2 separate regions of the Homo sapiens genome follow, and region 2 is linked to region 1. The links come from fine-mapping of genetic effects on gene expression. A gene starts in region 1. The other region holds a variant in brackets. All regions are shown on one strand. Distances are from middle to middle.

Region 1 (5,484 bases):
TTGTCAGCACTGAATATATTATGTTTTACTTACTTATTTTTTGTCTTTCCACTAGAATATTAGTTTTAAGAAGCAGATTTTTTTTTTTGTCTTCTCTGTTTGCTACATTATAACAAGTTCCTAGAGCAGTGTTTGACATACATAGGCACTCAATAAGTAGTTGCTGAACAAATAAATAAATAATATAAAATATAAGGACATAACCACAAATTTAGAATAATTTTTTATGGGGGCTTCTAATGTCTCTAAAATGTTTTTTTCTGAAAAGTAAAACAATGCAACATGACAAAATATTAAGATTTGATGAGACTGGGTAGTGGTAACATTAGTGTTCATGATTTTTAAAATATTTCTATGTTTGAATTACTTCATTAAACAATAGAATGGGCAAAAAGTTTGGAGAAGACTTTGAAGAGCATTATGTTATAGAAGTCAAGGGAAGAGGGAATTTCAAAAAGAAATAGGGAGAAATTTCAAATGCTGGCATTAGTCACCAAGAGATAAAGCAATTATAATTTACTATTAGGAAATTATTAGTGACTATTGAAGTAACCTGTTTCAGCCACAATTTGATAGCAGGTAGGGTAGTGAGGAAATGGAGAAATGGAGGCCACTTATTCAGTAAGATGATAGGCACAGCTTTTTGAGGATGAAAAATTTATGCATGTTTGCAAGCAGGATGGGAAAATCCATTGAAAAGATGAGACTTAAAATGCTGGGAAAAAGAAGATAATTAAAATAGCAAATTCTAGAATAAGTAGAAATGTTTATAATTAGAGGCATAGGTTTGGAAAAAAAGGCATTGCATCTGGCAATGAGAAGAGGCACTACCTCTGCAATAGAAGAAAACTAAGCAGGAAGGATTGAGATAGGTGGAGACAGAAGGAAAGGTGAGGGAGTTCATTGAAGTAGTAAGGCCATATGTCGGAATGGTGAAACTGAGTAATGGATATGGCCCAGGTTAGTGAGTTAATGGGCATGTCAGAAGGCTCAAGCTGTGAGTGCCTAGGTTGATGATTAGAGTCTCAATTATATGGGTGCTATCAGGCTTTGGAGGCTCCGAAGCATCAGAACTAACCTGAATGGATTGGGTGCATTTGAGGAGTTTCAGCAGTAATGCTAATAGCAGCCATCACTCATATGTGTCATTGTTCTAGATTCTCATATATATACTTATTTATTCCTGACAACCTTTAATGTGACTATGATATGACCATTTTTCAGGTAAGGCAGTCGAGGCATGGAGAAGTTAAGTAACTTGCACCAGGTTACACAGATCATGAGAGGCAAAGCTGGAATTCAAACCCAGGCTGTCTAACTCCTCAGTCCATGACTTAACACCATTATACTCTCCCTTAACTCAGTAACGGGAGGGTTAATTGATGACAAATGAAAGATTGTTAAGCAGATAAAGGGATAATAGGTTTCCAACACATACTTTGTCCTTTGTTTCTGTATTATCCAAGACACCTCTTTTTCATGTGTGTTAATTTCCAATTACTGTTTTCTTTATCAAAGCCTCAGGCTTCCAAGAATTTTCTGAATAACCCATTGAGCTTTCTTTTAGTCATACAAAGTGTTTGTCATCTTCTCAGGAATGTTCATTATATTCATATTTTCTTTAGAATGATTCCAATTTCTTTTTACTCAGAACGAACTCTTTGGCATCATGCTTCACATAATCATTTATCTTTTACTAATAAATGGAACTTCTCTTTGGGATGTGGTTTTGGGAATGAACAATGACATGGAATGATAGCTGATTAGCCAGAGCAACCTGCCAATCAGCAGGATGTCAGAGTCCAATCACATATGCAACCCAAAGAGCCAATTCACTAACCCTTTATGAACATTTTTGCAAATACCATGAAACTTGAGTGCTGTGTGTGCATCATTATGGGCAGTTTCCCTGTTATTTGTAGATTTTTTTATTTGCTACTCAGAAGCATCTTTCCTTGATGTTTGTTCATAATATTTTTCTTAATTGTCCAAGATTTCACCTGAATAGTTTGATATATTACACAGAATTTAAAATTCTTTCCCTAAATAGGATCTTTTATTCTCTGAGGTGGAAAACATTGATTTATCAGCATTAAAAGTCATTGTCAACACTTACCGTTTTGTTCCTGTAACTTTTACTAAATTAACCTGCTATGACCATGCCCCTCAGCTTTAACAAATTAAACTATTTGAATGAAGAATGGACATAATGGTTGGGGATTGTGCCGTACTTTTAGTTTACAAGGACTTGCGCATCCATTCGATCTGCCCAGTAACTCTTCAGGTGACAGGGCAAGGTTTTAATGTTCCCATTTTACAGATAAAGAACCGGAGGTGTAGGGAGATTAGAAGATGGTCCTTGAGTGAGTAAGTGGTAAAAGTGGGTCTTGAATCTGGTTCTTCCCGACTCCAAGTGTCTCTCCATTCTGTAGTGGATTCTTTGGATATCTTCCTATTAATATGCACGATGCCCTCGTCTATTGCCTTCCTTTCCCGCTGCCTTCGGTTTTCCAGTCGAGGGGCTTCCTAATGTGTCCCTGTCCAGCTGGGATGGCTGCAAGGGAGCACACCTGGGGTCTTCCTGTCTTCAGTCTTTCATCTTCCTTTTCTGTGGCCCTTCCAGCTTCACCATCCGTGGACATCTCCTCCTTCCTTCAGCCCCAACTTCTAAAGTCTTGTCACAGCCCCCTGGCAGTGGGACCTCCCATCCCCAATCATCAGCAGGAGAGCCCATCGCAGAGGGGAGGCGAGGGCAGGGACCGCAGCGCACAGGGAAGCCATGCTGAGGGTTCCTCCTGCATTTTCTTCCTCGCGGTCCTCAGGAACATCCTCGCGCCCTCCGGCCCCGGCGCTCCAGCCCGCCCCGGATCCGCCTCCCTCTCCTTCCTCCCCGAGGTTGAGACGAAGCGTGGGACGCACCTGGGTCCCTCTCTGGTCACCCTGCTGAGGCTCCGGGGGCTGCTCCGGGAGCAGGATTTACAGGCCCGGAGAACGCCAATGGGAGATCCAAATGGTCGGGGACTCCGGCGCTTTAAGAGGCTTTTCTCTGGGAAACACCCGTCCCCTCCGTGCGCCTTATGAATGGAAATACTCCTCCCCCGGTCGAGCCCATTTTCCCATTTCACCAGGAGCCGCAGCCTGCTCTCTCCTTTCGGTCTCCCCGCCCACATCAACGCGGGCAGCTCCAGGAGGGGACGGACAGGAAGCCTTTGGCCGCCTATTAAATCCCACCCATTTCTCCGGGGGCGATTTCCTAACCTTCCGGGACCGAATTCTGCAATTTGATGTGCGTTTTGTCCGAATGGTAGCGACACGGGCCTAAGGGAGGGGGAAAGCGAGGGGGTGGGGGGTGGGGGGTATGCACTCTTTTCCTCGCAACATCGCTGGCGGAGCGAGGGAGCTCACACGACACAGATTTTGGGGCAAAGCCTTTCCAACTGGACAGCACCATGTCCACCAAAGCGGAGCAGTGTAAGTAGCAGCCGGCCCGGCATTCCGGCCCGGCCTCGGCTGGGAGCTATTGCAGCTGCGGCGTTTGCGGCTGCTGGGAGACCTTGGCATTGTGCTGGTGCGGGGGTGGGGGCTGAGGTTGGGGCGGGTGGGGGGTGGCGGAGAGAGAAGGTGGGGGAGGGTGGACGTTAATGGCAGCGCGGCGCTGTCCCCGGTGCTGAAAAATAATACGGTCTTCCTCGGGCTCCAGCGGGGGTTTCTCAAGACTCAGAGACCCTGCGAAATGAAATTAAAATGGGGTCATTCTCGGGAAAAAGAGGCCTCGTATCTTTCAGATAAACATTTCAGTATCTCTTGTTGGAGTGGGGGAAGGGGGGTAGCGGCAAATCAGGGGCGGGGAACTGTCAGTTGCAACCAAAGCCTGCCTGGCCTTCTGAGCATGCCCAGTTCTTGGTGCTGGAGCCATAGGGGAGTTTGAGTCTGCAGTTTCCACTTCGGGTGGAAGAGGCAAGAAGGGAGAGAAGGGGGAGGGAGCAGGGAGCCAGGCAAGAGGAAAATTAACTCACTAATGCCAACACCAATGTCAAAACCAACCACAACCATGCGGTGCTTACAAGAAAGTGAAAGGAGCTCTGGGAAAATGACCTAATTGATCTAATTATTGTTCCAAAGAGCAGGCTTCCTTTGTAGGGCAGCCCATAGCACCGGAGGATTTTGGTTGTCCCAGTAATGACTGACTGTGTGCGTGGTTGGAAGCAACCTGCTAACTCCTTGTGGATGGAGTAAGTTTCTAATATGGTTCCCATAGTCTGTCTTATTGCAGTGCGCACTAGTAGGCCTTCGGTGTGTGCTTGGTAGGTTGATCAATGTGAAGCCTTTTTCCGAGTACACTTGAGGGCTTGAGGGATTCAGGAGCTTAAACTTCAGATTGTAAATAAAAGACGTTTTTATTAAGCAGTAAGTTTGAATTTTTAACAATATACCAGAACTTATTCACCTAGATTGACTCCTTTCTTCCAAAGCAGTACACGTTATATGGATAATGCTGTCACTACTTAAAAGTCTTTGTAATTCTTCTTTGGAATGGCTACTAAAGCCGGTTTTTGAGACACACAAAACAGTAGTCTCATTATTTGAGGGCAATATCTTATATATGATAAAATGCAGTATGTCATTTATTCACCAGATAAATTAAATAAACTGAAGGCTTATAGAATTCTCAGATTGATGGTTCATTAGAAATTGTGCATGCCCACCTACCACCCAGTGCTTTTACTTCTTTATGTTTTTTTGGAATCCGGAAGATCTGAGTTTCAATCTTAGTTTTGCTACTGTTTGACCTTGGGCAAGATAATTGACCTCTCTGAACTTTATTTCCTCATCTGTAAACCTGGGCTAATCATGCTGATGGGGTTGTTGTGGGGAATGAGAGAATACATATAAAAGGTTTAGTAATGAGCCTAGCACATAGAATGTACTCAATAAATGATGGCTATGATAATGACAAGCATTGCCCACTTTTAAATAGTCCATCTCCTCTAAATAGTTAGGAAGCTCTCTTGTGATTTTTTTTGCATGTTTCTGAAAGTTAAATCTACATTCAAAATTAAGTTTTGCTTTTACAGAGGTTTTTGAAAAAAATTGGGTGCATTCTGTTTTGAGGAATGGTAACATAGTTTGAGTCCATGTAGAACCTCCCACTTGAGAATATCACATCCTGATATTATAATAAAGCCAAGTGGTTTTATTATAGTATGGTTTTTAAAGGAAAAAACACCACCTGTCATTTGATTGTGTAGTTACATATTACGTAAGTAATTTCAGGCTAAAGCCAGTGAGTATTACTGTCCTCTTCCTGTGTTTTCTCTTCCTTGTTACATTTTGAAATGGACTGGATGCTTTGTCTTGTCTCTTTCCTGGGCAATGAATAAAATCTATCTATGGACTTGATTCTGTAGAGCAATTAGTGGACTTAAGTAGCTATTTTAGACGTGTTAGTGAAACAGATTTTTTTCATCTGTAGAGGATGAAAAG
Region 2 (5,000 bases), 49 kb after region 1:
TCATTTGAGCTCAAGGTTGACTGACTCTGGCCCTCTAGTGTGCACTGTGGCCACATCCTTTCTGTTGTTAGCTGATGTGCCTGTTAAGATGGCATATTAATTCTAACGACAATCAGAAATAACATTAGGAATCCAAAGAAGGTTCATCTGCTGCAAAACAAAGAAGAGTCTAGTACTTTTCTGTTATAATGAATACAAAAGTGATCCAAGTCTTCATCATCAAACCTTGGCTGATGGCCTATATTTTGGGAAGTCCAGGAATATACAAATGTACATTTAGTGTAATGGGATTTGGCCTACATGCATTCTAAAGCTAAATAGTTATGGTTTTGTTGCATCTCCTTTATTTTTATTCTTGTGCAGGTAATAATAATAGTAACTGTTAATATTAGTAATAACAGCTAATATTTGTGGAGCACACAGTATGTGCTATGCTAAGGACTTTACATTTATCTCATTAAAACCTCCTAACAATCCTTCTAATGAAGTGAGGTAGGTATTGTTATGATCCCTGTTTAAAGATGTTGTTAGAAAGATTATTATTAGGTAGCACTTCCTCCCATGATCATTGATGACTCAATGCACATGGTCATGTAGCACCAGCTTACGGCTTCCCTTGTTTGGTGCTTGCTGAAATTGCTGCTCGGCTGAAGGTTGCAAATTACCTCATTGCCCGACACTCCAGATGGTTTGATTGATGGAGCAGAAATAGCCCGGTTTTATTTCTGATACTGCCCTTGACTTTTCTAAAACTTCCATTGGGCAAATCATCTAACTTCTTGTGCCTCAGTTATCTTGTGTAGAATGTAGTAATACAAATACCAAGTATTATTGAAGATTGAGAAAGTGTGGAGGAAAAATGCATGTAATGGATATTTATATTTCTTAACATATTCATTCATCAGTCATTTATTGACCAATTACTGTATAAATAGTACCCTATCAAACATTATGTTTCATAACACTTAATAGAGATGGAGCACTAGTTGCTTATAACTTAAACCAGTTCATTAAAGCTTAAAATGTAAAGTTAGCCTATTTTGTTAATTGCAAAATATTCAGTGACTGATTACTCAATTTTGTTTTGTAGATCTTGGACAGTCGATATTTTATACAACTACATGTTTGCTACCTTTTCTCAATGATGATATTCTGAGTACTTTGCCCTACACGATGATATCAACGTTGGCTACCTTTCCTCCATTTCTGCACAAGGATATCATTGAATATCTTAGCACATCTTTTCTACCAATGGCTATATGTAAGTCCAATCTTACCTAATACTAGATTATTTTTATGTATGATATGAATGGAAATTGCTTTTGCTGTTATAGGCTCTAGTTTTTCGAGATTATAATGGAATCACTTGATATATACAGGAGCTATGATTTCAATTCAGTCACTTTAGCATGGATATTATGGCGAAAGTCAAAGAAATGAAAGGCGTTAGGGCTTAAAATTGTTTTATTCAGACTGTTTGATCTTATAGAATAGAAAAAAAGAACATATCAAGGCAGTCTAGATTTCCTATGTATAAGTTACAGTATCTTTTACCACTTTAGAAAAAAGATGGGGAAAGTATTGTCTCAGATGCAGAAATTCCTATCTTTTGGCTTTGAAGGCAGTAGGATCTAATAGAAAGAGCATTAGATAGTCAGGATGTGTAAATTCTGGTCCCAGCTCTGCCTCTAATCTGGGCAGCTCACATAGTTGAAACATCATCTACAGAGTGACGAATCCATCAGCTTTCCCTTATAGAGGTATCGTGATGATAAAGTGACTCGAAATTTATGAAAGCACTGAAAAAAGCTAAAGCTTCCAAGTCATGTGCAATGTATGATTATAAACATAAAACTGATTTGAATCCTGTTTCATTTCTGTAGACTTAATCTTACAGGCTTTCCAGACATGCGCACAAAGAGAAAAAAATATTGCATTGTGGTTTTTATGATCAAAATCATTTTCAAGTATTTTTTAAAGAAATGGATTATGGATTAATCTATGTTTCAGTGGGAAATCCGAAAAGATTGTGGATTTAGGAGTCAAACGTTGGGATCCAAATCACAGCTCTTCCACCTACTAGCTATATGACTTTAGGCAAATTACCCAACTTTCTGTTTCTTTCTTATAAAATAATAATAATAATAATAGCTGCCTCATGAAGTTGTGGGATAATTAAGATGGTTAACTTGGAACATTGGTAAAATGCTAGCACAATGCCTGGTATGCAATAAGTGTCAGCTTGCTTCTCGCCTTCTCTCAACTATTGTTTTAGAAAAATACTTTCGTTGGTTACATTCAACTCCTAGTGATCATTATTCACATTTTAATTTTATGTACTTAC[G/T]ATCTTATTAAAGTTGTTGCTCTGTAATAACAATTGGTAACCATATATATCTTTTGAGCTACATTTGCTTATTTTTACAATCAAGTTTAATGTTAGCTATGGAATTGTACTTTTCATGTCTTTCAGCAAAGAGTTTGACTTCTCCCTAAATTATATAGCAATTCAAAAAAATTAGCAGACTGATCATACCATTCAAGTAATACAATATTTGATCATTTTCTTCTTTTGTTCTTACTGACAAGTACTCATTTCTTGATATCGTTTTAGAATTGCATAGTCATATCTTTAAAATAAGTGATGTTAACTGTTAAACTTAGGCATAAGAATTTTTGGTTTTTTGAAGCATAACAGATGAGGCTGTTTCCTTCCTTCCTTCCTTCCTTCCTTCCTTCCTTCCTTCCTTCCTTCCTTCCTTCCTTTCCTTCCTTCCTCCTTCCCTCCCTTTCTCCCTCCCTCCATTCTTCCCTTCCTCCCTTCGTCCCTTCTTTCTTTCTTTAGTTTTTTGAGATGAAGTAACACTCTGTCACCCAGGCAGAAGTGCAGTGGTGCAGTTTTGGCTCACTATAACCTCTGCCTCCTGAGTTCAAGTGATTCTCCTGCCTCAGCCTCCCAAATAGCTGGGACTACAGGCACCAGCCACCACGCCCAGCTAATTTTTGTATTTTTAGTAGAGATGGGGTTTTGCCATGTTGGCCAGGCTGGTCTCAAACTCCTGACCTCAGGTGATCCACCCGCCTCAGCCTCCCAAAGTGCTGGGATTACAGGCGTGAGCCACTGCACCTGGCTTCCTCCTTCCCTTCCTCCCTTCCTCTCTCTCTCTCTCTCTTTTCTTTTCTTTTTTGATATAGGGTCTTATTCTGTTGCCTGGGCTGGAGTGCAGTGGCACAGTCATAGCTCACTGCAGCCTCAAACTCCTCGGCTTAAGCGATCCTTTTGCCTTAGGCTCCCAAGTAGGGTGTGAAGGCCTCTACCACCATGCCCAGCTAATTAAAAAAATTTTTTTGTAGAGATGGGGTCTCACTATGTTTCCCAGGCTGATCTGGAATTCCCAGCCTCAAGTGATCCTCTTGCCTCAGGCTCCAAAGTGCTGGGAGGCGATGGTGGGATTAATGAGGAGGCTGTAGCTTTCTAACAATTAATCTAATTCACTAAATCCCTCCTTCTTAGGAATAAGTTAATAATTATGGGAGAGGTGTTGAAAATATCAGGCCTCTGAAGTTACATTTAAGATTGATCAAGTATTGTGATAGCTGACAATTTGTTTCTTTACACTTAATTATTAATTTCTACTTAATTAGAAACACAGATCCCAAAACATGCCATGTAGTCACGTTAGAATTCTTACTTACATAAATGTACAAACCTTGGCAACTGAGGAGAATAAAACAGTAAGTTGAGTTTACAAAATTTGTGTATATTTTAATGTTTATTAGAGGAGTAACTTGGCATTTATTTGAAGGTATGAACAAGTCACTTCATGTTCCCAAGGTCCCATTTTTTTTAACTATAAAGAAGGGGTTTGAAAAAAATGTTCAGTCTCGCAGATTACTTCTGGCGTACTAATTCTAGTTTAAGTAACATCAATATTATTTTATGTAAGAGGCACGTATTGTCCTCTAACCTAGTTGTTGGTCTACTTCATGTGTTTATTTTGTTGCTCTGGTTTTAGTCTTTTGGCTTTGACTTTCCTTTCTCATAATCATTCCTGTGGTTCAATAATAGCCAATATTTGTCATCTTTAAGTCTTTGAAAATAAATTGTAATACCAACCTTTACAGCCAAATTCGATTACACCATTCAGGTGTTTCCTTTGTACTTGTTATTTCATGAGTATACAAAGACATAGATCCAAAACCAGAAGGATATAGTTTCAGATTAATCATGTTAAAATGGACTGATGTGAGAATGTGTGTCCGTGTGTCGTATTCATGTTTTTTCTATTTTTTTGGTAGTTGTTTTGGTGTCTAGAAATTGTGACCAAAACAAGACAAGAACGCATAACTTCTTGCAGAATATTTTTATTTCAGGACTGAGATGTTAGGATGAAGGATATTGTATGTCCTGAGTACTTGATAAAGTCTTTAAGACAAAAAGGCTTTTTGGTGTGGTGTTCCTAATGTCAGATGGAAAACATGAACTGCTTTTCAGGTATAAAATGATTCTATCCTTAAGGACCTAGAAGATAAAGTTCTGATCTTTGAAGTGGACCTAATGAGGTATTGCAGCTCTTCAGAGTAAGAGGCCAGCATGTATATCAGAGATTTCCTCCTTACCATCCTTGTCAATAAACCAAGTGCTGGACTTTTATTTTAGAATGAGTCCTTTTAAGGTTCTGCAGAGCAAACTTCAACTTACTTATTGTGAAATTTTCCTTTGACATAGCTTTTCTTTTTAACTCCTTCCATAAATAAAATATATTTCTCTTTATTCCAAATGTGCTCAATATGCTTTGTTTATAAAAAATATATTAAAGGAGTTACTAAGAATTGAGAAAGTCATTTGCATGTCACCATGGAAACCTCTCTTTTTCCAATAAAGGATCTGTGATTTGTGGACTGAATTGAAATATGGAGATTTGGGAGATGATGGCTTTGGCAGAGAAGAGAAAGAGCTGATTCCAAGTGAACATTGACTGATGCAGGCTATGTTATTGTAA

Which allele goes with the higher level. Positions count from the first base shown, and alleles are read on the strand shown. Sizes are in standard deviations (SD) of each study's normalised expression.
As copies of G replace T in region 2, the expression in cerebellar hemisphere of the gene that starts at base 3,359 in region 1 goes down (small effect, 0.26 SD a copy in GTEx).

The links. PIP is the estimated chance that this variant, and not a neighbour inherited with it, causes the effect.
Region 2: its variant is the best candidate, but not a certain one, in a credible set for the expression of UNC79 in cerebellar hemisphere (GTEx, PIP 0.52).

The regions. Positions count from the first base shown.
Region 1 is chr14:93,427,581-93,433,064 of GRCh38, forward strand. It overlaps UNC79 (unc-79 subunit of NALCN channel complex), which reads left to right and starts at 3,359. Exons shown (of 52, transcript NM_001395159.1): 1 at 3,359-3,471. The coding sequence starts at 3,450.
Region 2 is chr14:93,476,468-93,481,467 of GRCh38, forward strand. UNC79 (unc-79 subunit of NALCN channel complex) reads left to right here. Exons shown (of 52, transcript NM_001395159.1): 4 at 1,091-1,261. Among named protein-coding and RNA genes, the nearest start is that of UNC79, 48 kb to the left of the region's middle. The variant G/T (reference allele first, on the strand shown) is at 2,345.